Regions from separate parts of the Homo sapiens genome. Here region 2 is linked to region 1. The links come from fine-mapping of genetic effects on gene expression. A gene starts in region 1. The other region holds a variant in brackets. All regions are shown on one strand. Distances are from middle to middle. Region 1 holds the start of HAP1 (huntingtin associated protein 1). Region 2 holds the start of GAST (gastrin).

Region 1 (15,795 bases):
TACTAAAAATACAAAAAATTAGCTGGGCGTGGTGGTGTGTGCCCGTAATCCCAGCTACTCGGGAGGCTGAGGCAGGAGAATCACTTGCACCCGGGAGGCGGAGGTTGCAGTGAGCAGAGATCATGCCATTGCACCCCAGCCTGGGCGATAGAGTGAGGCTCCATCTAAAAAAAAAAGAAGAAAAAAACCTCTGCAAAGACTCTCTGTGATGTCTACTGTTGAGTGAGAGCTGAGAGGTTGAGAGGTCAGGACAGCAGTGAACATCTTCCACTTTGGAGACCACTTGTAGCAGTGAAGGGCCCAGCCAGGCCCTGAGGGCATCCCTGGTGCCACTTTGCCCCACCTACACCATGACAGCCTGCCCTCCAGACTAAGGAATCAGCGCACGTTGCTGGAGCCCCTGCTAGGTATGAGGTGCCCAGGTGGGGTGACCACAAGCATGTGAGGAGCTGTCTGTGTTCTTGATGCTGTAGCTTTTGGTCAAGCTGAGACCTCTACACACGGGAGAGTGTCAATGACCACCTGCGAGGCAGCCCAAGGCCCTCCTGTAGCCCAATGGGCGTGATGTGGTTGGAGAAGGTGAAGGATGCTCTGGGCTTCCTGGAGGAGGGTTTGGGGAGAGCTGGGCCTTGAGGAAGCGCCTGGGGTCAGGGTGTTGCCTGCTCTCCTAGTTTGCTAAGTTATCCGGTAAGTATTTATCGAGCGCTCAAGCTTGCTAGCCTGCACCAGGCTCTGGAATGCACAGATGAAGACTGCCAACCCCTGCCTTGAGTGGGGCCCACAGGTGAGAAATCAGTGTTTATAGCCCAGGTCAAAGAAAGAGACAGACACATAGAGGAGAGGAACGTTTACTTATGAGGAGTAAAGGGGGTTCCTTTTCAGAAGGCCTGGCGGGGCAGATACAAAACACGGCAAGGATGTAAAGGAAAGCCTGACATTATCCGTTCTGCCATGGGAACCACAACGATTTCACTACCTTATCACAAAGGTCATGACTTAGCTTTAGGAATAGGCTTATTTTTTGTTAGGGAGTTCAGATTTATTTGTTTGTTTCTTTGTTTATTTATTTATGACAAGGTCTTGCTCTGTCATCCAGGCTGGAGTGCAGTGGCGGGAAGACGGCTAACTGCAGCCTTGACCTCCTGGGCTCAAGCAATCCTCCTGCCTCAGCCCCCGCAAGTAGCTGGGACTACAGGCGTGCACAATCATGTCCATCTAATTTATGTATTTTTGTAGAGACAGGGTTTCACCATGTTGCCTAGGCCGGTCTCAAACGCCTGGGCTCAAGCAATCTGCCTGCCTTGGCCTCCCAAAGTGCTGGATTACAGGTGTGAGCCACCGCGCCCGGCCAGGAGTCCAGGTTTATGGTGAAAACTCAGTCTTTCTTATTTTGAAGACTGGAACCAGTCAGGATGATTCTGTTATTTCGGATTTATGTCAGAGTACAAGTGTTTCCCTCTGAGCCCATCAAGCATGGGCCAAGGCAGGCTCAGATACTAAAAGCTGGGCACAGAAGCCCTTCTTGCTTTTGCCCCAGTGTGTGGAAGGCTGAGGTAGAGGGAAGCACATTGGATCTGGGAGGCAGGGACCCAGATCCAGCCAGGTTAGATCAGGGGAGGCTCCCAAGACTGGGTGGCGTCTGAGCTGAGGCTTGAAGAAGGAAGAGCGGACATAGCGTCTGCAAAAGGCACTTGGTATTTGTCCTTCCTTTATCTCCATCCTCTGGCAGGATTCCTCCAGAGGCCATGGGGCAGATGCCCACGGTGGGCATCTAATTTATAAGACCTAACAGTTGGCTCATAAGTAGTATTATGTGGAAGCAAACCCAGTGAGCACAGGCACCCCTGGGTACGGGAGAGGGAGGGTCGCCCAGCTTCTTCTCTGAACTGGGAGGCCGTGGACAGCACATGGGCTGTTGGTAAGACAAGCCTTTGTGATCTTCCCTCCCTGATACTTCCTGGCTGTGTGGCCTTGGATAAGTTGCTTGACCTCTCTGGGCTTCTGTTTTTCATCTATAACACAGCAGTATTTTTTTCCTTCCAGTGATGATAAAATGAAATATATCCAAAATCCATACGGCACCTAGTCAGGTCTCAGTGAATGTGTATTTATTCCTCTGTCTCTATCCCCAATCCCACAAATTGTCCCTGGAAGGGCTCAGAGCCTGGACATGGACGCAGGGATGAGAGGGAATTGCTGACTCTGGGGACAGAGGTCAGGGAGCGAAGGGCTCCTTGGTGTTATCCCTGAGCCTGGAGGTAGCTCAGGGAGGCCAAAGGGCCAGAACATCCTTCTAGGCTCGCCACCACCTGGTATTGCCTGTCCAGCAGGCTGGACGCAGCTGACGGTCCTGCCCTCCTCACAGAGGGTGCTGTGGTCCCCCCACTCCCAGCTGCTTCCCGTGGAGCTTCCCAGGTCAGGGCACTGCCGACCTGCTGGACCCAGCTCCATATCAGGCCAGCCCAGGCCTCCTGCTCTGGTCCCTGGGGAAAGGAGCGGGGCTGGGCTGAGGGCTCTAGGGAAGAAGTGGGCACCTGGCTGTGCCAAGGCTCACTCCCTGGGGATCTGTGGCTCACATCCTGGCCGGTCTCCATCCTCTCCCACAGGTGCCCCTGGAGGGTTCCTGGTGGCGCTCACCTGTGCCAGGGGATGTGGAGCCCTGGTTTGGGAGTCCAGAGTCCTAGGATCTCACCCTTACCGGAAGTCACTTCCCCAGGGCGATTACCACTCCCACCATCCATACCCAGAGAATCCACTGATGTGTTCATTCAACAAATATTTATTGGATGCCTCATTAGAGTCCTGAGAATACAAAAGTGAGCAAAACAGATACTGCTCTCATTGTTACTAAATAGATCATCTTGTCAATGACATCATCTTACCCTGTGAGCGGACAGAGTCGGGAGAGAATGCCAGGGGAGGGGAGGACACAGAGAGGCCTGATCTGGCACAGGATACCTAACACAGGTGAGCCCCACCAGGGAGGGCTTCTCAGAGGAGGAGTCAGACATCAGAACCAAGAGCAGGAGTGAGCCTGTGTGGGAGGCGGGGCCTTCCTCCAGGATAGGAGCCCCCAGGTGGGGAAGAACTTCAGAGTGGGGGTCAGTACTCTCCACCTGAGGTCCCAGCCACCTCAGCCCCTTGCCCTCGTCCCCGGCACTTGCTCTCTGTCCTTTCTCTCCTTGCCTCTCTCCCTTTCGGTCCTGGCCAGCAGCGGGGCCATGGAAGACAGCAGGCAGAGGGCTCAGACCCCCAGCTGCCCCCAGCACCTCGTTACCTCCTTGTTCCAGGCCAGAGGGGCTCAGTGGCCCAGGAGTTGGGCTGGGCTCTTTAAGAAGAGGAGAAAAGTTAAAGGGAGCCAGGTGTGGTGGCTCATGCCTATAATCCCAGCACTTTGGGAGGCCGAGGCTAGATGGATCACTTGAGGTCCGGAGTTCAAGACCAACCTGGGCAAAATGGTGAAACCCCGTCTCTACTAAAAATACAAAAATTAGATGGGTATGGTGGCATGTGCCTGTAGTCCCAGCTACTCGGGAGGCTAAGGCAGGAGAATTGCTTGAACCCAGGAGGCGGAGGCTGCAGTGAGCTGAGATCATGCCACTGATCTCCAGCCTGGGCGACAGAGTGAGACTCCCTCTCAAAAAAACAAAAAGAAAAGTTAAAGGGGAACCTCTGAGGGCCTAGGCCCTCAAGTCCCCCATTCTCTGCTGATGTAAGGAGGGACTGTACCTGGGTTCTGGGGTGGGGGTGAGGGCTATGGCGGCCACTGCCTGGTTCTGGAGGGGAAGGCCTGGATCAGAGATGGGGGAGGGCCCCCGAAAGGCCTGCAGGAGACAGCAGGACTGCGGCGGGGGTGAGGAGGTCTCCCCTGTTCCTAGTTCAGGGTGCCCCTCCACCCTGCTCCCCTGCAGAAAGTAACCCCGGTGCCTGTCCCCCCCAGGTCCCTGGCACCGACCCTTAGGGGCTCTTTCTATTACCTACCCTGTTCCAGGTGTTTTTTTTCCCAGGGTCAGGCCAGGGGAGGGGGCAGGAGGAGGGGCCTGAGCCACCTGTGTGCTGCCCAGGGCTGGGCACTGGAGTGAATGTGCCCCAGGTTCAGGGGGTGTGCACAATTAGGTGGTGGGTGGTCTGGCTTTGCAGCCTGGCAAGTCTTCTGCACCCTCCCATCCTCTTTCGGATCCAGGAGGGTCCATGGATGCACACTGGGAGGGAGGACAGGAGGCCAAGGGTCTTTGCTGTGTCTGATTTCTCCCCCTAGATGAGAAGCAGGAGAGGGAGGGGGTGGTTGACAGAGGAAAACCACTTGAGAGGCCTGGATCAGAGACTACCCCCAGTCTCCTGGACAGCCCTAGGCTGTCGAAAGGCAGATATCTGTCAGCCAGGCCAAAATGCTTACTTCCAGAATGACGGGCCCTGAGCCCTGGTTTCTCCATTTGTAAAATGGAGTCTCTGTCCCTACTCCACTTTCTGTGGGGCGACTGAGCCTGTAGGTGAGGAAGCCACGTGGGGAGGTATACGGGCTGACACTGCCCTCTGGTGGCCGTAGCCAGAGTTGCTGGCTGCCAGTGCGCTGACCTAGAGGGTGTGGTCAGCTGGGGGAGCTTTCAGGGTCTCCTAACTTCATCTCTGTCTTCTCCATCCCACTGCCTCTGCCTTCTTCCCCGTCAAACTCTCCAGGGGTTTCCCAGGGCTTCTTCCTCATGGGGCCAGAAACAATTTAATTCAGCAGGAGTGTAATAGGCTTCTTCTGTATGCCCTGTTCTGTGCTTGGTGGTTGGGGCTGCAGAGATGTCCAAGGCACAGAGAGACAGTCCAGGAAGCTGGGCTGTGGGAGGACCACTCGGCAGAGCCTATGGAGCTGTAGCCTCACGGAAGCCTGGGCTGTGCCGATGCCCGAACAGCCACCTCCTTATGTTCTTCAACCTCACTGTCGTAGCAAACCCTGGGGTTGTGTGTCTCCTTCAAGCTTTCTGCTGACAAAGAAACCATAGGAAACATGCAGACTTTGGGCTGGGCACAGTGGCTCACGCCTGTAATCCCAGCACTTTGGGAGACCAAGGGGGAGGCGGATCACGTGAGGTCGGGAGTTCGAGACCAGCCTAACCAACATGGAGAAACCCCGTCTCTACTAAAAAGACAAAAGTAGCCGGATGTGGTGACGCATGTTATTGGGGAGGCTGAGGCAGAGGCAGGAGAATTGCTTGAACACGGGAGGTGGAGGATGTGGTGAGCCGAGATCGTGCCATTGCACTCCAGCCTGGGGCAACAAGAGCGAAACTCCGTCTCAAAAAAAGAAAAAAAAAAGAAAGAAAGAAAGAAAGAAAATAAAACATGCAGACTTTGAACAAGGAGGAGAACGGTTATGTTATGAAAGTTCCTCCATTTCCAGAAGTATTCTGGGAGATAAGCTCTCTTTTCTGCACCTGTTTTCTCCTCCCTGAGGGAACATTTCCATCAGCATGTAAACATATTGTCCTCTCTCCCATCTTCAAAACACACTCCCCAGCACTCATGTCCTCCTTCAGCTCCTGTGCCCTTTTCCAGCTCTCCTTTGTTGCAGATTTCTTCAATACAGTTTTCTATACTGTCTCCCTTCCTTCCTTCCTTCCTTCCTTCCTTCCTTCCTTCCTTCCTTCCTCCCTCCCTCCCTCCCTCCCGCCTTCCTTCCTTCCTTCCGACAGGGTCTTGCTCTGTCACCCAGGCTGGAGTGCAGCCTCGACCTGTGCTCAGGTGATCCTCCCACCTCAGCCCCTGAAGTAGTACAGGTATGCACCACCATGCCCAGCTATGTTTTTTTTTTTGAGACGGAGTTTCGCTCTTGTTGCCCAGGTTGGAGTGCAATGGCGCAATCTCGGCTCACTGCAACCTCCGCCTCCCGGGTTCAAGCGATTCTCCTGAGTACCTGGGATTACAGGCACCCGTCACCATGCTCAACTAATTTTTTGTATTTTTAGTAGAGACGGGGTTTCACTATGTTGGCCAGGCTGGTATCAAAATCCTGACCTCAGGCGATCCACCCGCCTAGGCTTCCCAAAGTGCTGGGATTACAGGTGTGAGTCACTGCGCCCGGCCAATTCTTGTATTTTTTTGTAGCGAAAGGGTTTTGCCATGTTGCCCAGGTTGGCCTCAAATTCCTGGGCTCAAGCAATTCACCCTCCTAAGCCTCCCAAAGTGCTGGGATTATAGGTGTGAGCCACAGCGCCTAGCCTTCTTTCTGTTTTCATTTTGTTACCTCTCGTTATTTCCTCACTCCTCTTTGGTCTCTCTCACCCCCTCTACCAAGACCGCTCTTTTTTTTTTTTTTTTTTTTTTTGAGACAAGTCTTGCTCTGTTGCCCAGGCTGGAGTGCAGTGGTGCAATCTCGGCTCACTGAAACTTCTGCCTCCTGGGTTCAAGCAATTCCCCTGCCTCAGCCTTCCAAGTAGCTGGGCTTACAGGCTTGTTCCACCACACCGAGCTAATTTTTGTATTTTAGTAGAGATGGGGTTTCACTATGTTGGCTGGGTTGGTCTCAAACTCCTGACCTCAGGTGATCCACCTGCCTTGGCTTCCCAGAGTGCTAGGATTACAGGTGTGAGCCACTGTGCCTGGCCCCGCAAGACCGCTCTTGCCGAGGCCATGACCCCAGCTCACCAAGGTTGCCCATGACCCCAGTTTGCCAAGCTGAGTCTCTGTCCTCAGTCTTTGCCTGGCCCAACAGCACCACCCAACACAGGTGGCCACTCTCTACATGAAACATTTTCTTTACTTTCTAGGACCCAACTTTCCTGGTTTTCCTCTACTTCACTGCCCCACTCATCCCAGTCTTCCTTTGATGCCTCCTCTTCTTCTTTCTGCCCTCTGAATCCTAGGGGGTTAGTCCTGGGCGCTCTTACCTGTCTTCTCTCAGTCTCTTGGGGATCTCACCAGTCTCATAGCTTTAAATGGTCATCAAAGAACAATGACTCCTACATTTAAATCTCCAGCCCGGTCTCTCCCCTACATTCAGATTTATACATCTAATTGTCTACCCAACATTTCCAGTAGGATACTTAAAAAAAAAGTATTCTATTTATTTATTTATTTTGAGGGGTAGGCTCGCTCTGTAGCCCCAGCTGGAGTGCATTGGCACAATTTCGGTTCACTGCAACCTCTACCTTCCAGGTTCAAGCAATTCTCCTGCCTCAGCCTCTTGAGTAGCTGGGACTACAGGCACACGCCACCATGCTTGGCTAATTTTTGTATTTTTAGTAGAGACAGGGTTTCACCAGGTGGCCAGGCTTGTCTGGAACTCCTGACCTCAGGTGATTCGCCTGCCCCGGCCTCCCAAAGTGCTGGGATTACAGGCGTGAGCCACTGCGCCCGGCTACAGGGAGACTTTTAAGAGGCGTCTCCCAAGGAGAACAGGGGTTCGCCAGCATGGCAAGAGGAGGGCAAAGCGAACTAGGGTTGGAGGTGAAGAACAGTTAATCCAATCAAATGGAAGACGTCGAGTGGCGCGAGCACTGGGGTGTGAGCGCGAGGGTCAGGGTTGCAGCGCCAGGCAGGGTTGCAGCGCCAGGCAGGGTTGCAGCGCCAGGCAGGGTTGCAGCGCCAGGCAGGGTTGCAGCACGTTGGAAGCGCACTGGAGTTTGGAATGTCTCTCCCAGTCAACCGGGAAAGACGCAGCGCTGCCCTAATGCACTGGCCACCCCAGACCGTATGCACAACGTTGGGTTGGCAGCTTCTACACCAGGGAAGGCACCCGAAACCCCGGCGCGGCAGCTGGGGAGGGGCTGCCCCCAGCCAGGGACCCGCGAGTGCTGGGGCAGCCGCGGCTTTGGGCAGAACCATTCTCCGGAGATGGAGAGGGCAGAAAAAATCTTTCGCTCCCATCCCAACTCGGAGCCATCCGGAACTTGCACTCGCCCTTCTTGCCCTGCTTTTCTTACTGTGCTCTGTTCCGTCACCACTAGCTCCCCTCCCGCGCGGCTCTGAGTCCCGCTTGCCACTAGTTGCTTCTCGGCAGCCCCCACCCCTACGCGTGGTCCGGCCCGGCGGCTGGCGCAGGTTATAAAGGTCCCGCCGCAGCAGCGGACGGCAGACTCGAGATGCGCCCGAAGAGGTTGGGCCGGTGCTGCGCGGGGAGCCGGCTCGGACCCGGGGACCCAGCAGCACTCACCTGTGCACCTTCGCCCTCAGCCAGTCCCGCTCCGGAGCCCTCTGCGCAGCCGCAGGCACGGGGCACTGGACAGAGAGTAGGATCCCGAGCCACCTCTGGATCCCAGTTCCTCTCGGAAGCCCGCACCGGAGCTCGCCCGGCCTCGGAGGCTGGAGCCAAGGCAGGAGCCCGGCGCCCGTCCGCATTCTCGGCCATCCAAGGGGATGTCCGGTCTATGCCCGACAATTCGGACGCGCCGTGGACCCGCTTCGTATTCCAAGGGCCGTTTGGTTCCCGGGCCACTGGCCGGGGGACTGGAAAGGCAGCGGGCATCTGGAAGACGCCAGCCGCCTACGTTGGCCGGCGACCCGGGGTGTCCGGCCCTGAGCGCGCCGCCTTTATTCGGGAGCTGGAGGAAGGTAAATCGGGCCCCCGGGGTCCTGGACCGGGTGGGGACTGGGGCAACTCCAGGGAGGAAGTGGCCCCATCGGGTCCAGGCACCCCGCCCCCTCTAGCACTCAGTGTCACCCGTCCACCACCCCCGCGATGTCACTGCGGTGTCTGTCTGGTCGCCCCTTCTCCATCTCCTCCTCTGCTCTTGTCCCCTGGTTTGTGCCCGTGAGTCAGGTTCTGGGGCCTGCACGCTCGCCCACCCACCTCCACGCGCCTCTTGCTGCGGCAGATCTGCACCCCTTCAGCGCCCCTCTCCTGGGTCTACCGCAGTGCCAGGAGAGGGGCGGGGGGCTGCGGGAGGGCGCTGTCCCGCGCGCTCTGAGTCTGCGCTGGCCGACCGGGCTTGCGTGCGATGGAGGGGTGGGTGGGCGGGCGGAGGGGGAAGTTTTGCCCACTTTTTGGTTGCGGGTATGGGGGCAAAGTCGCGCTCTTTTCCTGCCCCTTGTCTCTCCTATCCTCCTGCGGGTCGGGGGAGATCTCTGGATTGGGCCTAGAGGCTCGAGTGTCTCCTAATCTGGTGAAGTCTTCCTCCTGTCCTCTGCACACGCAACAGGTGCAGGGTGAGTGGCTGCGTCTGTTTGTATGACCCAGGAGACTCCATTGCACTGCCTCCTGGGTAGGGGGTGATGAGCCAGTCTGAGGCTGTACTTCCCCTGGCTGTCTCCATTCTAGGCGCCAGGGACCCAGGTGTCCGGAGAGCCCAGTTTCTGAGCCTGGAGGACTGTGACCCCCTTACCTCAGGCTCCTCCAGGGGTAAAAAAAAAAAAAAAAAAAAAAAAGCCGGGCGCGGTGGCTGACGCCTGTAATCCCAGCCAGCACTTTGGCAGGCCGAGGCGGGCGGATCACTAGGTCAGGAGTTCGAGACCAGCCTGGCCAACATGGTGAAACCCCGTCTCTACTAAAAATACAAAAATAAGCTGGGCGTGGTGGCGGGCGTGTATAACCCCAGCTACTCGGGAGGTTGAGGCAGGAGAATTGCTTGAATCTGGGAGGCAGACGTTGCAGTGAGCTGAGATCTCGCCATCGCACTCCAGCCTGGAGGACAAGAGCAAGGCTTTGTCTAAAAAAAAAAAAAAACCAAAAAAAAAAAAAACCAAAAAAAACCCAAAAACCTAAAAACCCTGTCCACTTGGCCCTGGGAGCAGGGAAGGGAGTGTTGAGTGCCGAGGGGTAAGGGGAGGATGTGGGGGGCAGGAGGGGAGCCCAGTCTTCTCTCCCGATGACCCTTGTTGGAGAACTGACGATAGGACGGGAAACAGCTGTTTGCTGGTAGCATCTGCTCCTTTTTCCTGACCTGGCTGGGCCTTTTCTCCCCACCTGCCGCCTCCTGCAGCACTGTGTCCTAACCTACCTCCGCCAGTCAAAAAGATCACCCAGGAAGACGTCAAAGTGATGTTATATTTGCTGGAGGAGGTGTGTACTGCCTTCCTGATCCAGGCAAGCCCTTATTCTAGTTTTGTCCTGTAGGGGTGGGGGTCTTGTTTATTTCCTGATTGGCAGTCTCTCTGGGGCCCCAGGTTAGGGTCCTTCTTATGGAAGACAGGTCGATGTGGGATGTTCAGGCTGGAAGAGCTCTCAGAGCCAATCTGGTCTGATCTTCTTTTTCCATGAGGGGAAACTGAGCCAGGTTCCACAGTGGGTTAATGGCAGACTCTGGTCTGGTACCCTAGAGAACTAGGGGATGGGGAAGGTTCTCTTAGGGGCCTAGCCTCTCTCTGACCCCTGTGTCCCCCCCAGCTTCTCCCACCTGTCTGGGAGAGCGTTACCTATGGGATGGTCCTGCAGAGAGAGAGGGACCTGAACACTGCAGCTCGCATCGGCCAGTCCCTGGTGAAACAGAACAGTGTTTTGATGGAGGAGAACAGCAAGCTGGAAGCCCTGCTGGGCTCAGCCAAGGAGGAGGTAACCGGGTGGGGAGGAGAGGATAGCGGGCCAATCTACACCTGCCTCATGCCAGGACCCTCTCCTGTCCCTGCCCACTCCCAACCCATGGCTCCTCTCTCTTCCTGCCAGATTTTATACCTCAGACACCAGGTGAACTTGCGGGATGAGCTCCTCCAGCTCTACTCAGATTCTGATGAGGAGGATGAGGATGAAGAAGAGGAGGAGGAAGAAAAGGAGGCAGAAGAGGAACAGGAAGAAGAAGAAGCAGAGGAAGACCTGCAGTGTGCTCATCCCTGTGATGCCCCTAAGCTGTGAGTTCCTGCCTTTGCACCTGCAAGTCCTTTCTCTGAGCCTCAATTTCCTCATTTGTTAAGAGGGACACAGGTGATGTGCTTGCTGGCAGGGTTGCTGGAACTAATTGAGAACACTGCCCTTAGCCCTGGTGGGCTGGGAACTGGGAAGCCCCACTCCCTGCACCCTGACTCCCATTCCTCCCTCCCCTAGGATTTCGCAGGAGGCATTGCTGCACCAGCACCACTGCCCACAGCTGGAAGCCTTGCAGGAGAAGCTGAGGCTGCTGGAGGAGGAGAATCATCAGCTGAGAGAAGAGGTGAGAATGGGGGAGGAGGGCGTCCCTGCTAGCAGGGGGTGTTGACTTCCCTGTCCCTTCCTCTTTGTCTCCCTCCAGGCCTCTCAACTCGACACTCTTGAGGATGAGGAACAGATGCTCATTCTGGAGTGTGTGGAGCAGTTTTGTACGTAATGTTGTCACTCGGGGTGGGGGGTTGTCCCAAGGAGCAGAGAAAAGAACTCAAGATGTGGAGTATGGAGATCCAAGTTCAAGTCCCAGATCTGGCACTCCTAGCTGTGTGAACTTGGATACATTCCTTGACCTCTCTGAACCTTTGTCTTTAGAATGGGGATTAATTTTCTCAGCCCCACTGATCTCTCCAGGGTTTATGAAGATTAAGAGTGTCAACAGCTGAGGAAGTACTTTGTGCAAACTATAAAGAGCTATACAGAAATTGTGGGTCTCAGGCCAGGCACGGTGGCTCATGCCTGTAATCCCAACAGTTTGGGAGGCTGAGGCCGGCGGATCACCTGAGGTCAGGAGTTTGAGACCAGCCTAACCAACTTAGAGAAACCCTATCTCTACTAAAAATACAAAAATTAGCCAGATGCAGTGGCACAAGCCTGTAGTCCCAGCTCCTTGGGAGGCTGAGGTGGGAGAATTGCTTGAACCTGGGAGACAGAGTTTGCAGTGAGCCTAGATCACGCCACTGCACCCCAGCCTGGGCGACAGAGCAAGACTCCATCTCAAAAAAAAAAAAAGGTGGGTCTCCTCCAAGCCTGTCTTCTCTTATTTGGGGCAGGCAAGAGGGAGCCATGAGCTGCCAGAGACCAGGCACCCAGGGCTGGGACAGTTCAGAGTCATGCACGGGGCAGTGGCTGTGCCTGGCATCGTCCTAGGCACTGTGTGTTTATGAAGATGAGTGAGGAGCAGTGTTTGTGCCTGAGGAGTTCAAGTGTAGCTGGTGAGATGCAAACGCAAAGTGGCAACAGCTGAACTCCTGCTGTTCCCTTTACCCCAGAACTGACCTTCCTTCCTGCTGGGTTCTGCAACTCCCTGAATGGCCCCACTGGTCCCCAGGCTACTGGAGTAGGAACCAGTCCCCAAGCTCTGTTGCTTTTACCTCCTAGGAATGGCTTAAGTCTTTTTCCCCCTCCCCACTCGGGCTGCCTCTAGCCCAAGATACCTCTTAACTGGTCGCACTGCCTCTACTCGCGCCCTACCAGGAACTTCTGCACACAGCCTTAATGAGTTTTCTAAAACCAAACCTGGCCAGGTGCAGGGGCTCCCACCTGTGGTCCCAGCTACTCAGGAGGCTGAGGTGGGAGGATTGCTTGAGCCTGTGAATTCTGGGCTGTAGTACACTATGCCGACAGGGTCAGTATGGTCCAGGGAGTGGAGTACCACTGGGTTGCCTGAGGAGGGGTGAACTGGCTCAGGTCAGAAACAGAGCAGGTCAAAACTCCCATGCTGATCAGTAATAGGATCGCACCTATGAATAGCCACTGTACTCCAGCCCCAGCCTGGGAACCTGGCAAGACCTCATTTTTTCTTTCTTTCTTTCTTTTCTTTTCTTTTCTTTTCTTTTCTTTTCTTTTCTTTCTTTTCTTTCTTTTCTTCCTTCTCTCTCTCTCTCTCTCTCTCTTTCTTTCTTTTTTTTTTTGAGATGGAGTACAGTGTTGCAGTCTTGGCTCACTGCAACCCCTGCCTCCTGGGTTCAAGTGATTCTCCTGCCTCAGCTTCCTGAGTAGCTGGGACTACTGGTGTGTGCCATCACGCCTGGCAAATTTTTTTTTTTTTTTTTTTTTGACGGAGTCTCACTGTCGCCCAGCTAGAGCAATGTCATGATCTCAGCTCACTGCAACCTCCGCCTCCCAGGTTCAAGTGATTCTCCTGCCTCAGCCTCCTGAGTAGCTGGGATTACAGGCCTGTGCTACCGTGCCCAGCTAATTTTTGTATTTTTAGTAGAGATGGGGTTTCACCATGTTGGCCAGGTTGGTCTTGAATTCCTGACCTCAAGTGATCCTCCCGCCTTGGCCTCCCGCAGTGCTAGGATTACAGGTGTGAGCCACCACGCCCGGCCAAGACCGCATTTCCTTTTTTTTTTTTTTTTTTTTTTTTTTTTTTGAGAAGGAGGCTCCCTCTGTAACCCAGGCTGGAGTGCAGTGGTGTGGTCTTTGCTCACTGCAACCTCCACCTCCCGAGTTTAAGCGATTCTCCTGCCTCAGCCTCCCGAGTAGCTGGGATTACAGGCATGCGCCACCATGCACAGCTAATTTTGGTATTTTTAGTAGAGATGGGGTTTCACCATGTTGGGCAAGCTGGTGTTGAAATCCTGACCTCAAGCGATCCATCCCCCTCAGCCTCCCAAAGCGCTGAGATTACAGGCATGAGCCACTGTGCCTGTCCCAAGACCTCATTTCTTAAAAAACAAGTAGCCGGGTGCAGTGGCTCACCCCTGTAATCCCAGCACTTTGGGAGGCAGAGGCAGGTGGATCTCTTGAGGTCAGGAGTTTGAGACCAGCCTGGCCAACATGGTGAAACCCCGTCTCTACTAAAAATACAAAAATTAACTGGGCGTGGTGGCGCATGCCTGTAATCCCAAGTACTCGGGAGGCTGAGGCAGGAAAATCGCTTGGACTCGGGCGGCAGTTACAGTGAGCCAAGATTGCACTATTGCACTCCTGCCTGGACGACAGAGATTCGGTCTCAAATAAATAAATAAATAAACCAACAAACCCAAGTCTGACCACGTCATTACTGTGCCTAAAACTCCCAAATAGCTTTCCATTGGCCAAAGGATAAACCCCACCCCCTTGCCCACTACTGTGGTCTGGCCTGTGTGCACTGTTCTGGGCCCTCCCCGTCCCAGTGTCTTATGATGGCCTCTGGGCCTTTCCAGTCAGCTTGGACCCATGTTTTTCCTTCTTTGCCTGGGTGAGCTTCACTTGCCCTGTGGTCTTAGCTTAGTGGTTCCTTTTTCCAGGAATCCTTCCTTACCTTGCAGGTCGGGTTGGGTGCTGTAGCTGTGATGCCCCTGCCCTGTACACCCTTGACATTTGCCCATCATGGCCTGTATGATGTGTGACTGTGGTCTGTCTCCCCACCAACTTTACCTCAGTGTGGCGGCTGGGTCTTACTGACCACTCACCCTGGTGCCCTGCTCAGTATCAGTCAATGAACATTTCTTGAATGGAAGACCTGAGTGAGGAATGCAAAGCCCTGCAGGACCCACTGGCACAGCGCAGCAGCCGAGGGTGGGGGAGACAGAGGCATCTGGGAGGGCCAGAGCTGGTCCCTGAAGGCCAGGGGAGCCAGGGCTGACCTGTCCTCTGCCCTCCCCAGCGGAGGCCAGCCAACAGATGGCTGAGCTGTCGGAGGTGCTGGTGCTCAGGCTGGAAAACTATGAACGGCAGCAGCAGGAGGTCGCTCGGCTGCAGGCCCAGGTGCTGAAGCTGCAGCAGCGCTGCCGGATGGTGAGTCGGGTGTGTGTGGAACCCTCTTGTCGTGGCCCCATGGGACCCTAGCTTCCTTCTTCCTGCCTCCACTCGGCTCCACCAGGCCTGAGGTCCCTTTCTGTGTCAGAGTCAGAGACCTCAGAGAGCCCCTTATCTTGACCCCTTGTTATCTTGAGGAGACCAAGGCCCAGAGAGGGTCCTGGAGTCTTCTAGGAACCAGGCTGCGTGACTCCCCTGCCTTCTTTGCCCTCCTTCCGTGTGACTTGTCATTTCATGGGCTGCCAAGGACTCACTGATGTGCCTGGGAAGACTTGCTGGAAGCAGGGGGTGCCCTGAGTGGGTAGGCCTCAGATGGGGGTTCACTGGTTTTGGGTCCTTCCAGTATGGGGCTGAGACTGAAAAGTTGCAGAAGCAGCTGGCTTCGGAGAAGGAAATCCAGATGCAGCTCCAGGAAGAGGTGAGTCTCGCTGCCGGCTTCTGCCCCCACCCTGGAGAGCCGCTGGCCCAGAGTGGGGACCCCAGGCCCTTGGCAGCTACCTGACTCTGGAGAGGACTAGCAGGAACTGAGTCTTGTCCGTTTCCACCCCCTCCATGCCTGGCACAGCCCAGCAGGTGACAGTTCCATCAAGGTCTGAGTGGTGTGGAGTGCAGGGACCTGCCCTGGGTCCCCCACATGACACTTGGAGTCCAGAACCTGGGCCTCTGGCCTCAGCCTGAGAGCAGATAGGCAGGAGTGCTGGACTGGGTGTGCCTGGGTCCCAGCAGAGCGTGTGGGTGGGTTCCCAGCTGCAGGACCTGCGGGAGAAGTACATGGATTGTGGGGGCATGCTGATTGAGATGCAGGAGGAGGTGAAGACCCTCCGCCAGCAACCCCCAGTGTCCACTGGGTCTGCCACCCATTACCCATACAGCGTGCCTCTGGTGAGGACCCTCCCCTGGCTGCCCACTTTCCTACGTCTGTGCCTGTGTCTCAGCCTTGGTGGCTGATTGAGATCCCAGTTCCCTTCTGTGCCTGAGCCTATGGGTGGGGGTTCTGTGGGGGTCCTCTGGTAACGTCTGTTCTCTCCACCATAGGAGACTCTTCCTGGTTTCCAGGAGACGCTGGCTGAGGAGCTCAGAACGTCTCTAAGGAGGATGATCTCAGACCCTGTGTATTTTATGGAGAGGTGCGTGGCTGGGGCCCTCCCTTGCCCCATAGGCCATGGCCTTTCCTGTAGTGGGGAGGGGGTTTGCCCTCACACTCTGACCTTCCACGCTTCCCTATACCCGCCTCGTTCACTGCATCAGCCCCTCCACTCATTGCTTCTCTA
Region 2 (15,795 bases), 21 kb after region 1:
TAGTAAAAATAAAACACACTTTGTGGCCCCCCTGCCAAAAGAATATCATTGAGAAGATTATTGCTGTGGCTAACCGGGTCTCAGTCCTGCTGGGAACTCTGGGGGACAGTAGAATATATCTCAGAGTAGCCTGGGTGAGGTGGCTCACACCTGTAATCCCAGCACATTGGGAGGGCGAGGCAGGTGGATCACCTGAGGTCAGGAGTTCGAGACCAGCCTGACCAATGGAGAAACCCCGTCTCCACTAAAGATACAAAATTAACTGGGCATGGTGGCACACATGCCTGTAATCCCAGCTACTCGGGAGGCTGAGACAGGAGAATCGCTTGAATCCAGGAGGTGGAGGTTGCGGTGAGCTGAGATTGCACCATTACACCCCAGCCTGGGCAATAAGAGTGAAACTCCGTCTCAAGGAAAAAAAAAAAAAAGAATATATCTCAGAGTTATCCCACCCCTTGGGTGGGGGAGCTGGGGTATTTATCCTCTAACTGTCATCTGACACTGTCTGAGAGATGCTTCTGGAGGCATTTAACTGCCCTGCACTTGGCCCTGAAGGAAATTAGAATGTGTTACCTCCAAATATGCCACTTTGGCATAAGGACTATTTTGAGCTGAAGGCAATTGAGAAGAAGCAGATACAAGAAAAGCTCCCTACCCTCCTATTTGCATAAAAACAGGACATACATTTTCAACTGTGTCCATCTACCAGGAAGGATAAAAGTTAAATCTCTGGGCTGGGCACGGTGGCTCATGCCTGTAATCCTAACACTTTGGGAGGCCGAGGTGGGTGGATCACCTGAGGTCAGGAGTTCAAGACCAGCCTGAGCAACATGGAGAAACCCTGTCTCTACTGAAAATACAAAATTAGCCAGGTGTGGTGGCACATGCCTGTAATCCCAGCTACTTGGGAGGCTGAGGCAAAAGAATTGCTTGCACCTGGGAGGCGGAGGTTGCAGTGAGCCGAGATTGCCCCATTGCACTCCAGCCTGGGCAACAACAGCGAAACTCTGTGTCAAAAATAAATAAATAAATAAATAAAGCTGGGCGCGGTGGCTCATGCCTGTAATCCCAGCACTTTGGGAGGCCAAGGTGGGTGGATCATGAGGTCAGGAGATCGAGACCATCCTGGCTAACACGGTGAAACCCCGCCTCTACTAAAAATACAAAAAATTAGCCAGGCGTGGTGGTGGGCGCCTGTAATCCCAGCTACTTGGGACGCTGAGGCAGGAGAATGGCATGAACCCGGGAGGCAGAGCTTGTAGTGAGCCAAGATCGTGCCACTGCACTCCAGCCTGGGCAACAGAGTGAGACTCTGTCTCAAAAAAAAAAAAAAAAAGTTAAATATCTGGAGACAACTTTATTTTTTATTATTTTTTTGGTTTCCATAATTTGGACTTATTTTATTGATACTCATTAGTGAATAAAATGTTGATTTTTGATGCATTACAATACACTTTTTGGTAGTGGTTGCACAATGTTGATCATTTATTTGTTTACTAAATACTGCAATCTCCAAATTGCCTTTTTTTTTTTTGAGACAGAGTCTCGCCCTGTCTCCCAGGCTGGAGTGCAATGGCGTGATCTCAGCTCACTGCAACCTCTGCCTCCTGGGCTCAAGCAATTCTCCTGTCTCAGCCTCCTGAGTAGCTGGGATTACAGATGCATAACACCATGCCCAGCTAATTTTTGTATTTTTAGTAGAGACAGTGTTTCACCGTATTGGTCAGGCTGGTCTCGAACTCCTGACCTCAGGTGATCCGCCTGCCTTGGCTTCCCAAAGTGCTGGGATGACAGACGTGAGCCACTGCGGCTGGCCAAATTGCCAATTTTTACATGGTATTTCTGGCAATGATGGTGGCTCGTCTCTCTGAATACATAAAATGGTCCATTCAATCCATGGTTTTCATATTCCTTTGTTATTCTATCTACTGCTTTAAAATACATTCAGGCTGAGTGCAGCGGCTCACACCTAGAGAATCCCAGCACTTTGGGAGGCTGAGGCGGGTGGATCACGGGGTCAGGAGTTCAGGACCAGCCTAGACAACATGGTGAAACCCCACCTCTACTAAAAAGTACAAAAATTAGCCTGGCATGGTGGTGCCTGCCTATAATCCCAGCTACTTGAGAGGCTGAGGCAGGAGAATCGCTTGAACCTGGGAGGTGGAGGTTGCAGTGAGCTGAGATGGCACTACTGCAATCCAGCCTGGGTGACAGAGCAAGACTCTGTCTCAAAAAAATAAAATACATTCAAATAAAAAAATATAAGTTACTTGCAACAAGTGCACACTTAGAACAGCGAGGAGAGCTGAGAACATAATTAACCAGTACTCTTGTGTTCAGAGCATAAATAGTCTGAAACCGTGGGACTGAAGCTTGCTCCTCATAGACTTTCTCCAAGTATCCTTGGTGGACGTAAGGTTACCCTCACTCAACGGAAGGACACATCTGCTGCTGTGGTGGGAGGACACAGAATGACAATTTCATTTACGTAGGACGTTTTCCTTCCATAATGTCTGGAACAAGTCGGAGACAACTTTAGACCCCTTTCAGCCTGGAGTGGCACCAGTGCAATCTAATAACAAACTTGACTCACTAGCCTTTATCTACCATTCGTTTTCCATATAGCTGCTTTCCCATGCACAGTTAGCCACCCTTGGAAGTCTAACCTAGGCTGGAGCTTGGGGGCCTGGACCTCAGCCCTCTTCTGGGACAGGCGGTAGGAACCCCAGCCCTTGTTCTGCAGCTGGCACAAGAGCTGTGACTGCCGGATGTGGGTCACATGGCAGCCCAGGGGGGCAGGAGAAGCCGGGGGAGGCCCACTGGCTACCAGACCCAGCCCTGAGAGGGGACAGGGCTCAGCTCCCACGGGCAGAAAGCTGTTTCCCACACACAGTTAGCCACCCTTGGAAGTCTAAAAATTGCTGTCCTTTATCTTGCCTACAAATGTATTGTTCTTTGTTGAAGATGCTCTGTGAGCCTGAATTCTCCCATCTGAGTACTAACCAGGCCCCACCGTGCTTAGTTTCCAAGATCAGACAAGATCGGGCGCGTTCAGGGTGGTATGGCCGTAGACAGTGTGAGCCTGAATTCTAAGCTACCTCTCTGAGTTACTCAACTCTGGGTACTCTGTGTGTTAAATGTGTGATACACATGTTAATAAACTTGTTTGCTTTTCTCTTGTAATCTGTCTTTTATAACAGAGCCCCAGCCGAGGACCTAAGATGGGTAGAGAAAACACTTTCCCTCCTCTACAGCCCTCAGGTGGCGGGTAGCTCAAGGTAATGGTGTCAACAGGCACAAGAACAATGATGGAATGGAGTGAGACACCAGCAATGCCTGCACCAGCCACTCATGAGCAATTATTTACAAATATTTATTGGGTTCCTCCTATTCTTGCCACCGGGGATACAGAAGGGAGGAGGGACTTGTCACGCTCCCAGTTTCCTGTTTTGCCCGAGAGGCAGACAATAAACTGGCAAACAAAACAACTACAGATTGTGAAATGTGTTCTAAAGAAAATATTCTGCTATTGTGAGACAAAGCAACAAACATTAAGAAGCTGTGTTTGCTCCTTTCTGCTTGTCGGCACAGTTTCACAAAGCACCTGACTCTGTGACTAGAGACAGACGTGCAGCCCTCCGGAAAGATGCTTTGAAGACAGCACAGGAGAGAGCCTGAGGCCCTCCCATGTCTCTTGGCTGAGTCACTACTTTTCTTTTCTTCTTCTTTTTTTTTTTTCTTTGAAAGAGAGTCTTGTTCTGTTGCCCAGGCTGGAGTGTCATGGCGCAATCTTGGCTCACTGCAACCTCTGCCTCCCGGGTTCAAGCAATTCTCCTGCCTCAGCCTCCCGAGTAGCCAGGACTACAGGCACATGCCTGGCTAAATTTTGTATTTTTAGTAGAGACGGGGTTTCACCTTGTTGGCCAGGCTGGTCTCGAGCACCTGACCTAAAGTGATCCACCCTCCTCGGCCTCCCAAAGTGCTGGGATTACAGATGTGAGCCACTGCGCCCGGCTTGAGTCTTCACGTTTCTTAAAAGAGAAATAATCCTAGTCCCTGGCTTTTCTGACACAGAACATTTCCAAGATGACATCTGACGAGGTTAGTGATGATGCCTCTGTGATCTAGGACCCAAATCTTGCTGTGATTCTGCTGTCATGTAATTCTGAGCAAGTCTGATGGGATTTTGCACATACGGAACCTCCACCTTTAGCCCCCAGATGTATATAAGCAATGGGCTGAAACATTGTGCCAGAGCCTGCTCCTGGGCTGGAGGCCTCAATCTATAGTCCTCTGTAAGACTTCTGAATACAACTAGCATTCATTCTTTAAAAAGCTTAATTTTTTCTCTTTTATTTGACCCTGTGGTAGAGAATAACTGGGTCTATGTGTGAAGGGTGAGGAGCAGAAAGGGTAGGTCTCTCAGGAAGAGGCATTTCACCCAAGAGCTAAGGAGGAAAGGGGAGCCCACCATATTTGTGCCTGGGGAAGAGCGTTGCAGGCACAGGGAATGGCAAGGTCGGAGGCTCTGAGCAAGAGAGAACATGGCGTGTCTGTGTAAGGGAAAGGACCGAGAGGACAAAGAGAAGGAAGCCACTTGGCGCACAGTGGGAGGAGAACCTCAGGGCTAGCTTTCAGGGCTGTGGCAGGGAGTTCAGGTTGTATTCTAAGTGCACTGGGAAACATTGCAACGTTAAAACCGAGTGTGACACGGTTTATCTTTTAAAAAGCTTACTCTGAGGCTGGGCACGGTGGCTCATGCCTGTAATCCCAGCACTTTGGGAGGCCGAGGCGGGTGGATCACCTGAGGTCAGGAGTTCAAGACCAGCCTGGCCAACATGGTGAAACCCCGTCCCCACTAAAAATACAAAAAAATTAGCCAGGTGTGGTGGCGGGCACCTGTAATCCCAGCTACTTGGGAGGCTGAGGCAGGAAAATCGCTTGAACCTAGGAGGCAGAGGTTGCAGTGAGCTGAGGTCTCATTATTGCACTCCAGCCTGGGAGACAAGAGCGAAACTCCATCTCAAAAATAAAATAAAATAAAAATTAAAAAAAAAGGTTACTCTGGCTATGAACCCTACCATATATTATCCTGCCCATACCTGTGGATTCTCGTTCAATGTGGGGCTCTGGGGGACCCAAGAAGAATCAGCCAGGGTCCCTGCCCCTAAGAGGCACTCAGCTCTTCTCCCTGCCACAACTTCACCCCCAGATGAGTCCCCCTCCTCTGCCCTACAACACTGACACAGTCCATTGATCCACTGGAAACTAGTTTATTTTTGATCAGTTTTTCAGGGGACAGGGCTGGAGTGGGGTGGGAGGTGGCTAGGCTCTGAAGCTTGGTTCTAGGATTGTTAGTTCTCATCCTCAGCACTGCGGCGGCCGAAGTCCATCCATCCATAGGCTTCTTCTTCTTCCTCCAGCCATGGTCCCTGCTTCTTGGACGGGTCTGAGGAGGTGAGAGAGGCGAGAATGGGGGAAGGATGCCTACCTTCCAGGAACTGAAGTCAGAGCCAGTCTGGGGAGACCTTGGCCAAACCTGGCCAAGTGAGGCAAGCAGGGCAGTCAGCAGCTCCTACCTGCCACGAGGTGTGGGGGACCCTGGGGTCCCAGCTGCCTTCGATGATGAGAGGCTGGGCCCTGCTGCTCCAGCCAGGGTAGCTCCAGGTCCCTGTTGGCCCCTGTACCTAAGGGTGCATCTGGCTGCTGGGAGCGGGGCTTCCAAGAAGCTTCAGAGAAGGCGGCCAGAGCCAGTGCAAAGATCAGCACATACACACACAGTCGCTGCATCTCGTCTGCAAAGGGGAGAAGGGACTAGCTTAAGGGTGAGGCTGTCCCCACAGAGGCCCAGAGGCAGGGGACTGAACCATGTGGCTCCAGGCCTCTACCTGCTGATGAGTGTGCAATTCTTTCTTTTTTTTTTTTTTAGACAGAGTTTCACTCTTGTTGCCCAGGCTGGAGTGCAGTGGTGGGATCTCGGCTCACTATAACCTCCGCCTCCCGGGTTCAAGTGATTCTCCTGCCTCAGCCTCCAGAATATCTGTGACTATAGGCACGTGCCACCATGCCTGGCTAATTTTTGTAATTTTTAGTAGAGATGGGGTTTCACCATGTTGGCCAGGCTGGTCTCGAACTCCTGACCTCAGGTGATCCACCCGCCTCGGCCTCCCAAATGCTGGGATTACAGGCATGAGCCACCGCACCCGGGTGAGTCTGCAATTCTGTGTGGAGTTGTGGACTATTTCTTCAGATCAGTTCTCCAGTTTCTGCCAGTTCCACACCAGCCCCGAAGTCTTGTGTTTTTTCTCTTTACCTACCCCGATTACAGCCACTGCTTCTATTGGAGAAAGTCAAATCCTAGGGCAATGGTTTCCCTAGGTTCTGTTCTGCAGAATTTGAGGCCATGTTAGTGGTTCTGTAGCTGTTTAAGTAATGTAATTTATTTATTTATTGAGACAGGGTCTCACTCTGTCGCCCAGGCTGCAGTGCAGTAGTGCAATCACTGCTCACTGCAGCCTCTACCTCCTGGGCTCAGGTGATCCTCCCACCTCAGCCTCCAGAAGAGCTGGGACTACAGGCTTGCACCACCACGTCCAGCTAATTTTTTTTGTATTTTTTGTAGAAACAGGGTTTCACCATGTTGCCCAAGCTAGTCTTGAACTCTTGGGCTCAAGCAATCCTCCCGCCTCAGCCTCCCAAAGTGCTGCGATTACAGATGTGAGCC[A/G]CTGTGCTCAGCCCAAGACTTGTTATTTAAAGTGAACTTTTTAGGCCAGGCATGGTAATCCCAGCACTTTGGGAGGCTGAGGAGGATGGATCCCTTGAGCCCACAAGTTTGAGACCAGCCTGGGCAACATACTGAAACCCCATCTCTACAAAAAATACAAAAATTAGCCAGGCATGGTGGCATGCACCTGTATTCCCAGCTACTTGGGAGGCCGAGGTGGGAGGATCGCTTGAACCGGGGAGGTGGAGGTTGCAGTGAGCCGAGATTGCACCACTGCTCTCCAGCCTGGGCGACAGAGTGAGACCCTGTCTCAAAAAAACAAAAACAAAAAGTGAAACTTTTAAATAGTAATACCAAAGGAACATGGACATCCAGCTGTGTTACAGACCGCATGTTATCACTTTGGAGACTGCAGCACATTCAATGCTTGGCCAGCTCACACTGATTTTTGTGCAGCCCTGAGAGGAAAGGTTCTCCTGTCATTTTTGCTTAACTGAGGAATATCCTGTGATTATAATGAAGCAGTTAAGAAAAAATTAAGCTGTCACCATTAGCAATTATGTATCAGGGTGAATCAAGTTTGGGGAAAACATAATACAGAACTAAACTGGAATCTCAAACAAACATAAAATTCAAATGCTCATCTATTCCCTGGACTCACTATTTTTGTATGCTTTTGGTCTCACTATTCTGATTGGCTTTATCATAAGAAAATGATAAAAATTTTCTCTTGTCAGAATACATTTGTATTAATAAAATACTGTACTGCTTTTAAGTTTTTCTTTTTTTCTTTTCTTTTTGTGAGACAGAATCTTGCTCTGTCTCCCAGGCTGGAATGCAGTGGCTGGCGTGATCCTGACTCGCTGCAGCCTCGACCTCTTGGGCTCAAGAGATCCTCCCACCTCAGCCTCCTGAGTAGTTGGGACTACAAGTGTGCACTACTATGCCCAGCTAATTTTTTTGTTTTTATTTTTAGTAGAGATGAGGTCTCACTATGTTGCCCAGGCTGGTCTGGAACTCCTGAGCTCAAGCAATCTGCTTGCTTCAGCCTCCCAAAGTGTTGTGATCACAGGCATGAGCCACGGTGCCTGGCCATTAAGTTTTTCATAATCAGGTTTTCTGTTAGGTTTTCTTTGGAAGAAAAGAATTCTGCTGCTGAAGAAATGTTTGAAAAATCAGTGATCTGGAGCTGTATTGTCAGATGCTAACCACATGTGTTGTTCAGTGCTATAGCCACCAGCCACATGTGGCTCTTTACATTTAAATTAATTAAATTAAAAAATTATGGTCAGGTGCAGTGGCTCACGCCTGTAATCCCAGCACTTTGGGAGGCTGAGGGGGTTGGATCACTTGAGGTCAGGAGTTTGTGACCAGCCTGGCCAACATGGTGAAACTCTGTCTCTACCAAAAATATGAAAAATTAGCTGGGTGTTGTGGCAGGCGCCTGTAATCCCGGCTACTCGGGAGGCTGAGTCAGGAGAATTGCTTGAACCTGGGAGGCAGAGGTTGCATGTCACTGCACTCCAGCCTGGGTGACACGGCGAGACTCTATATAAAAAAACAAACAACAACAACAACAAAAACTTCCTTACACTAACCCCATTTCAAGCGCACACGTGGCTAGTGGCTACCATATTGAACAGTGCAGATGAAGACCATTTCCTGCATCATAGGACGTTCTTTTGGATGGCACTGGTCTAGGAAAGGGCTTGAAGTGGGATCCAGGAGCTGTGGATTCCTATCCCAGCCTTGCCTAATAATCCCTGTGACTTTGGGCAAGTCACATCTTGCCTCTGGGCCTCAGTTTTCTTGTCTGAGAGAAAGGAGAAGAACCCCAGTCCTCCTCACCTCCCAGGGCTGGGAAGAGTGTGAAGGGATAGGCTAAGGGCAGGGCCCCGGCTGCGGCAGAAGGGCAGGTGGAAGGCAAGGTTGGGAATACCAGGGTAGGTACTGGAGCCAAGACCTAGTTCCATCCTGGGATAAAGAAAGGGTCCCAGCTCTGGAGACCCCAAGGGGTGAGCCCCAGACTCTGGCCAGTGGCCTGGTACCTTGATGGGGGAGAGGACCTGTCAACCCACTTCCTAGCCTCTCCCCTCTCCTCCTGGGTTTTCTCACCTGCAGAGCTGGGAGGTGTGTGGTGCCACGGCTGGGCCTGGTGCCTCTCAGGTCTCTGCTCTGCTTGATGCTCCAGGCCTGCCTTATAAAGCCCTCAAGGTCCCTCCCAACTGTCCCCCCACCCCGCCCCTACCCTGCCATATGAGTCCAGGCGAGAGGAATGGGGTGGGGCACAGGTACAGCCCATCACCCTGCCCCGCCCTTTCATTTAGTGTCAGTCAGTCATCCAGGATGTGGGGGAAGGATAGGGGAGTTGACCTTCATGGTGAGGGGCTGGAGCGGGGTGGCGGCAGCTCTCCAGCTGTACCTGAGGGGCAGGAACCAAGCTCCCTGGGTCAGGAGCAATGCTTCCCACCATATCCTGGGGGTCAGAGGCCTGGCACTTATCTCTCGAACTACATAGGGACCTTTGTGGGTGGTGGTAGGTGAGGGAGTGAACCCGATGGGCTTAGATTCAGGGAAAGTGGATTTCGCCATCCACTGATGTTTGGCAAGCGTGTGAATGTGGGGTGATGTATTGATTCCCCGTCCCCTCCACTGGACTCTGCAAACATAACGTGTTACCAGGAGCAATGGGTTGTGGGCTGATGGCCCTGTTCTCTCCTTCTAGTGGCTCACATCCTGGTCACCTCTGAAGTCCTTTCACCCTCCCCCTACCATGGAACACCCTTGGTGCCTTCTTCTCCTTAGGCCCTCTGTGCTGGGCTGGGTTTGGCTTGTAGCTGCCCCGTGTCTTCTAGGTCAGCTGCCCATGCACCACCACTTGCAAACCCCCTATGCAGAACCAATTCCTGGAGGGTCCTGCCTTTGAAGCCTCCTTCATTTTGCTTTCAAGGGGAGCTAGTAATCTGCATAACAACTTTTTTTTTTTTTTGAGACAAAGTCTAGTTCTGTCACCAGGCTGGAGTGCAGGAGTGCAGTGGTGTGATCTCGGCTCACTGGAACCTCCGCCTCCTGGGTTCAAGCGATTCTTCTGCCTCAACCTCCCTAGTAGCTGGGATTACAGGCGCACGCCCCCACGCCTGGCTAATTTTTTGTATTTTTAGTAGAGATGGGGTTTCATCGTGTTGGGCGGGCTGGTCTCGAACTCCTGACCTCATGATCGGCCCAGCTTAGTCTGCCAAAGTTCTGGGATTACAGACGTGAGCCACCATGCCCAGCCAACAACTTTTCAGTATCAAAATATACCTTCAAATGGTTAGCAAACAGACTAAAGCATTTGCCAAAGATGGACCAGAAAACAAAATGGTACCTTGTTGACTTATTTGATAAACTGCTGCCTCCACATGGTTTGACCAGATGTAATGAGCCGTAGGCTGTTTTTTACTTTTCCACTGTTGAGAGCAGAGATTTTGCTCCTGTTCATGCGTCATTGGGCCCCCACCTTTTCTGGGAGAGTTTGATCCCCTTGGGTATTGGGTAACTGCAGTGGTACCCATGCTTACAGCCAGCCTTGCTGAGAATTAATGGGTGATGAAGGAAGCAGGCTGTGCGGTGTCCATGGCAACTGACGGCTGAATAACCGTTGTGAATAACCACTCTCATCTAGAGCAGGACACGGTGACTCAGCAGATGGAATAAATGAAAACGACAAAAAGCAGTGCAGGCATTGGTGATAATTAATTGAATCACAGAATCTCAGAGATGAAAGGACTTTGAGGGGGCTTGGGAGAACAGGTGGGGTGAGTGTAGCTCTGTTCATACACTAGGGGAATGAATGAAGACATTCGTGTTGCTATGGTAACACTAATGGGAAATGATAAGTTTTCAGTAGAACCCTGGTTGTACCAGAGCCCAAGACTCAGTTTGTGCCCATGGAGGGGGTTATGCCCCCTTGAATGTTCTTCCCCAGGCTGGTTACATGAGGGATGACAATTTCAACAAATAGAAGCATGTCTCCTATTCCATAGGCAATGGTTAGAATGTCACTATTTGGCCAGGCTTGGTGGCTCACTCCTGTAATCCCAGCACTTTGGGAGGCTGAGGCAGGTGGATCACGAAGTCAAGAGATCGAGACCATCCTGGCCAACATGGTGAAACCTTGACTCTACTAAAAATACAAAAATTAGCTGGGCATGGTGGCGGGCGCCTGTAATCCCAGCTACTCGGGAGACTGAGGCAGGAGAATCGCTTGAACCTGGGAGGCACAGAGAGGTTGCAGTGAGCTGAGATCATGCCATTGCACTCCAGCCTGGTGACAGAGCGAGACTCTGTCTCAAAAAAAAAAAAAAAAAAAAAAAAAGAATGTCACTATTTGCAGACCCTGCCAGGTCTGCAGGGGAAGGGTTGCATTCAGAGATGAGCATCCTTGACCCTGAGGAGCTCCCCAGTCACGGACTGCACGTTCTCCTCATGAGGGGACCTCGTCTGATGGAAAAGGAAGGGTTTCCTGGTCCTGTCTTTTTCCAGCTGTTGAGCTTTGAGCATATTTCTCTCCTTCTCTGAGCTGTTTTCTCCTCTAGGAAATGAGGAAAGTAACTTGGGGAGGAGGGTCTCGTGAAGGTGATGTACATAAAGCGCCCTGCACGGTGCTCAAAACATTGCAGATATTTGGCCGGGTGCGGTGGCTCATGCCTGTGATCCCAGCACTTTGGGAGGCCAAGGCAAGCAGATCACCTGAGGTCAGGAGTTCGAGACCAGCCTGAACAACATGGTGAAACCCCGTTTCTACTAAAAATACAAAAATTAGCTGGGCGTGGTGGCACATGCCTGTAATCCCAGCTACTTGGGAGGCTGAGGCACGAGAATTGCTTGAACCCAGGAAGTGGAGGTTGGAGTGAGCCAAGATTGTGCCATTGCACTCCAGCCTGGGTGACACAGTGAGACTGTCTCAAACAAACAGACAAACAAAAGAGAATATCGCAGGTATTTAATCCATTTTGCGTCTTCTCCCCCATCCTCTCTGGGTCTCAATTAACCACATTTGGAAATAGGAATCATTCATTTGTACCTCATAGGGCTGCAGTGAAGGGAAGAGGTGACAAGGTCTGTGCACACGCTTTATACACTTGGGGGAGTTCTCCTTCCCCAAGGCTTAAAGGAGGGTAATTCCCTAAGCATATCACTCTGTGAATCCAAGGGTTTCCCTCCTGCCAGCTGTGACTCAGAGGGACCTCAGCCCAACTGCCACTGAAAGAGGCAGCAGGGATAGAGTCTATGGAAGCTGGACCTCCTGGTGTACAGGGGGTTTTGGAACTGGTGAGGCCAGGGTTTGAATCATGGCTCTAACACCGACTAGCTGGGTGAGCAGAAAATTCAATTTCTGGGCCTACCAAATTGAAGACCAGATCCCAGACCTTGGGACCCATCTCCGTCCCCCTCGAGGGTGCAGGTGTGTGGGCCCTGCCCCTGTCATCACAACGATAACAATGCCGTGTACCAGGAACTGATAAGCTCTTAGCATGAATGAATGCAATCACTCTTCACCATGATCCTAGGACCTAAGTGCTAGTGTGAACCCCTTCTTCAGAAGAAACTGATGGGTACGGGGGCTTACGCCTGTAATCCCAGCACCTGGGGAGGCCGAGGCCGGCAGATTACTTGAGCCCAACAGTTGAAGACCAGCCTGGGCAACATGGCAAAACCCCATCTCTACAAAAAATACAAAAATTAGCTGGGTGTGGTGGTGCGTGGCTGTGGTCCCAGCTATTTGGGAGGCTGAGGTGGGAGGATTGCTTGAGCCGGGGAGGTGAGGTTGCAGTGAGCCATGATTGTGCCACTGTACTTGGGAGACAGAGTGAGACGCTGTCTCAAAAAAAAAAAAAAAAAAAAAAAAGAAGTAGAAACTAAGGCTTAGACAGGTGAAGTAATCCCCATCCTGAGTCCACACACCAAAAAGGAGAGGTGGGTCTGAAACTCAGGTCTCTATCCTCCCAGTAGGAATGTGGCAGGCAGAACAATCATGTCCCCAAAGATGTTCCTGCCCCAATCCTTGGAACCTGTGAATATGTGATTACATAACAAAAGAGACGTTGCAGGTGTGATTAAGGTTACTGGCTTTAAAATAGAGAGCTTATGCCAAGTGCAGTGGTGCATGCCTGTAGTCCCAGCTACTCTGGAGGCTGAGGCAGGAGGATCACTTAAGCCCAGGAGTTTGAGACCAGCCTGGGCAACATAGTGAGACCCCTGTCTCTGAAAAAAAAAATTAGGGAGTTTATGCTGGATTATCTGACTGGGCCCAGTGTAATCACATAGCCCTTAACTTTCTTCAGCTAGAGGCAGAAGAGATGTGGCTGAAGGTCAGGTCGGAGAGCTGGAGTTATGAGGACTCCACAAGCAATTGCTGGTCTGAAGATGGCAGGAGGGCAACAGGACGAGGAAAGCAGTGGCCTTGAGGAGCTGAGAGGTTCTCCACCGACAGCCAGGAAAGAGGAATGTCAGCCCCGCAACTACAAAGAATGAAATCTGGCCAACAACCTGGATGAGCTTGGAAGTGGATTCATCCCTAGAGCCTCCAGAAAGAAATGCAGCCCTGCCGACCTGATTGTGGCCTTGGGAGATCCTAATCAGGGGACCCCGTGAGCCACTCTGTACCAGGACTTCTGACCTACAGAACCGCGAGAGAATAAATTGCTGTTGTTTTAAGCTTCTAAATTGTGGTGACTTATTATGGTAGCAATCAAAAATGGATACAAGGGATCACAGCCTTGTGAAGGTTTCTGTTTAGTAAAAACTGGCCCAGCATGAATTTCCATGTAAATTTTCAAATACAAAGAAGGGAGCTGTTCTTTGAGTTATTCTGACCATCCGAATATTCCAAATTCATTCCAATTACTGAGCACCTGCTGTGAGCTAGGGTACAGATGAGGCTACTTGGGGATAAGAGGTGAATATGACAGCGCTGGGTGCAGCGGCTCACGCCTGTAATCCCAGCACTTTGGGAGGCTGAGGTGGGTGGATCACTTAAGTTTGGGAGTTCAAGACCAGCCTGACCAACATGATGAAACTCTGTCTCTACTAAAAAATACAAAATTAGCCGGGCATGGTGGTGCACGTCTGTAATCCTGGCTACTTGGGAGGCTGAGGTGGAAGAATTGCTTGAACATGGGAGGCAGAGGTTGCAATGAGCTGAGATTGTGCGATTGCACGCCAGCCTGGGCAACAAGAGTGAAGCTTTGTCTCAAAAAAAAAAACAGGTGACTATGACAGGACAGACCCTTTCATTGCTTTGGTGGAGTTTAGATTCTAGGGGCATAAAAGAGTAACACACGGCCGGGTGTGGTGGCTCACGCCTGTAATCCTAGCACTTTGGGAGGCCAAGGTGGGCAGATTGCCTGAGCTCAGGAGTTCAAGACCAGCCTGGGCAACATGGTGAAACCCTGTCTCTACTAAAATACAAAAAAAAAAAAAAAGCCGGGCGTGGTGGTGTGTGCCTGTAGTCCCAGCTACTTGGGAGGCTGAGGCAGGAGAATTGCTTGAACCTGGGAGGCAGAGGGTGCAGTGAGCTGGGATCGTGCCACTGCACTCCAGCCTGGCGACAGAGTGAGACTCTGTCTCAAAAAAAAAAAAAAAAAAAAAAAAAAAAAAAAAAAAAAAAGAGTAACAGAAAAACAAGGGTCCCCTGTGAAGGAGACTGTTCCCTGAGGAGGGAGAGGCTTCTCAGTGGACCCAGGCACACTCCTGCCTGCCAGGGCTGGCTTTGGGAAACAGATCACTATTGATGAGCTGCAAACCGTTGTCAGGGAGGCAGTGCCTTGGCTTCCTAATTGGTTATTGATGGCAGAAAAGGAAGAGCTTGATGACGACTCAATCATTCTGGCCCAGGCAACCAGGGCTTTGGAGGATGTGGTAGTTCTGGGGACAAACAGTGACACCTGGAAGGTGTTTGCATCAATGAGGGCATCCATGATCCCCCCTGGGGTAGGGGGCTAGGTAGGGGGAGGTGGGTTCTTGGGTTCTGGCCTCAGCTGCTGTCTGAGAGTGGTGACATGGCAGGGCCAAGAGGGCAGCCTGCAAGCTGCTTGCAGACTGGGCTGGAGAGGCTGCCCACCACCCCTGGGCCCAGGCTGGGCTGTCAAGGACAGAGAGTAGTGGCTACCCTTACTCTGGCTTCCGCTTCTCTCCTGAGCCTCCTCTCTCCTTTTCTCCTCTGATGCCCACCTGTGCCTTCGAAGCAGTGGTTCTCAGCCCAGGCTTTGTATTTGGATCACCTGGCCTCAAGTGATCCTCCCTCCTGGCCTCCCAAAGCCCTGGGATTTATAGGCATGGGCCACCACGCCTGGCCTAACAGTGGTTTTAACTGGGAAAAATAATCCTAAAGGCCCCTCTGTGAGAGGATGAGAGGAGTCTTTATTCGGGTGTGTTCCAGGCTGAATGGCTCATCCCCGGCCCAACAGGTAGGAGGTGAGGGAGCTGAGTTGGGGAACCCCCGGGTCTTGGACTCCATGTGCTGCTGCCTCTTCTCGGCCCACAGCTTCCCATCCCACCCTCTCCAGAAGCCTCGCTCCTGCTGAATCTGTCTTCACTGTGACCTCCAGCTCCTCCACTGTCTGGCTCCTCCCAGCCCGCCTACCCCTCCCAGGGTTTGTCATCTCAGTTCTGTGTGATGCACATAGATTGCTGCCCCTGTCCTGCTTCTGAACCTGCCAGGCTGGTCCCAGGTCCCTGACAGGCCACCCCGACCCCTTCCTCAGCTCCTGCCACTCCCTGCAAAAACCGACAGGAAGTTTCCGAAAGTGACCAGTTGATTCAATTGCAAATTAATATTCTGCAGCTTGGTTGTTACTGGCAACTGTGGTGAATCATTTCTCTTTCATTCCCAAGGTCATTTGACGTCAGCCCCCTTTTCCCCACCGTGAACACAGCTGCCTAAGTCCCGCTTCCGTCCTTTCCTCCTTTCCTCCATCGCTGGAGGTTCTGTCACCCCATTCAGTGTCAGCCCCTCCACCAGGGCCCATCATCCCAGACCCTCCTGCCTGCTTAGAGACCGTGTGCTTTCACTCTTTCATTCACTCATT

The links.
Region 2: its variant is fine-mapped to the expression of HAP1 in thyroid (GTEx, PIP 0.97).

What each region holds. Positions count from the first base shown.
Region 1 is chr17:41,726,909-41,742,703 of GRCh38, reverse strand. HAP1 (huntingtin associated protein 1) reads left to right here and starts at 8,061. Exons shown (of 11, transcript NM_177977.3): 1 at 8,061-8,538; 2 at 9,906-9,985; 3 at 10,310-10,474; 4 at 10,586-10,767; 5 at 10,961-11,066; 6 at 11,145-11,211; 7 at 14,373-14,503; 8 at 14,868-14,942; 9 at 15,560-15,651. The coding sequence starts at 8,070. It also overlaps the pseudogene RN7SL399P. RefSeq lists an enhancer at 8,630-9,172.
Region 2 is chr17:41,705,432-41,721,226 of GRCh38, reverse strand. It overlaps GAST (gastrin), which reads right to left and starts at 8,896. Exons shown (of 3, transcript NM_000805.5): 1 at 8,840-8,896; 2 at 5,580-5,795; 3 at 5,258-5,449. The coding sequence starts at 5,790. The coding sequence ends at 5,355. It also overlaps a transcript of HAP1 not described here and the pseudogene RNA5SP442. RefSeq lists a silencer at 3,476-3,770 and enhancers at 12,531-13,058, 15,383-15,795. The variant A/G (reference allele first, on the strand shown) is at 6,725.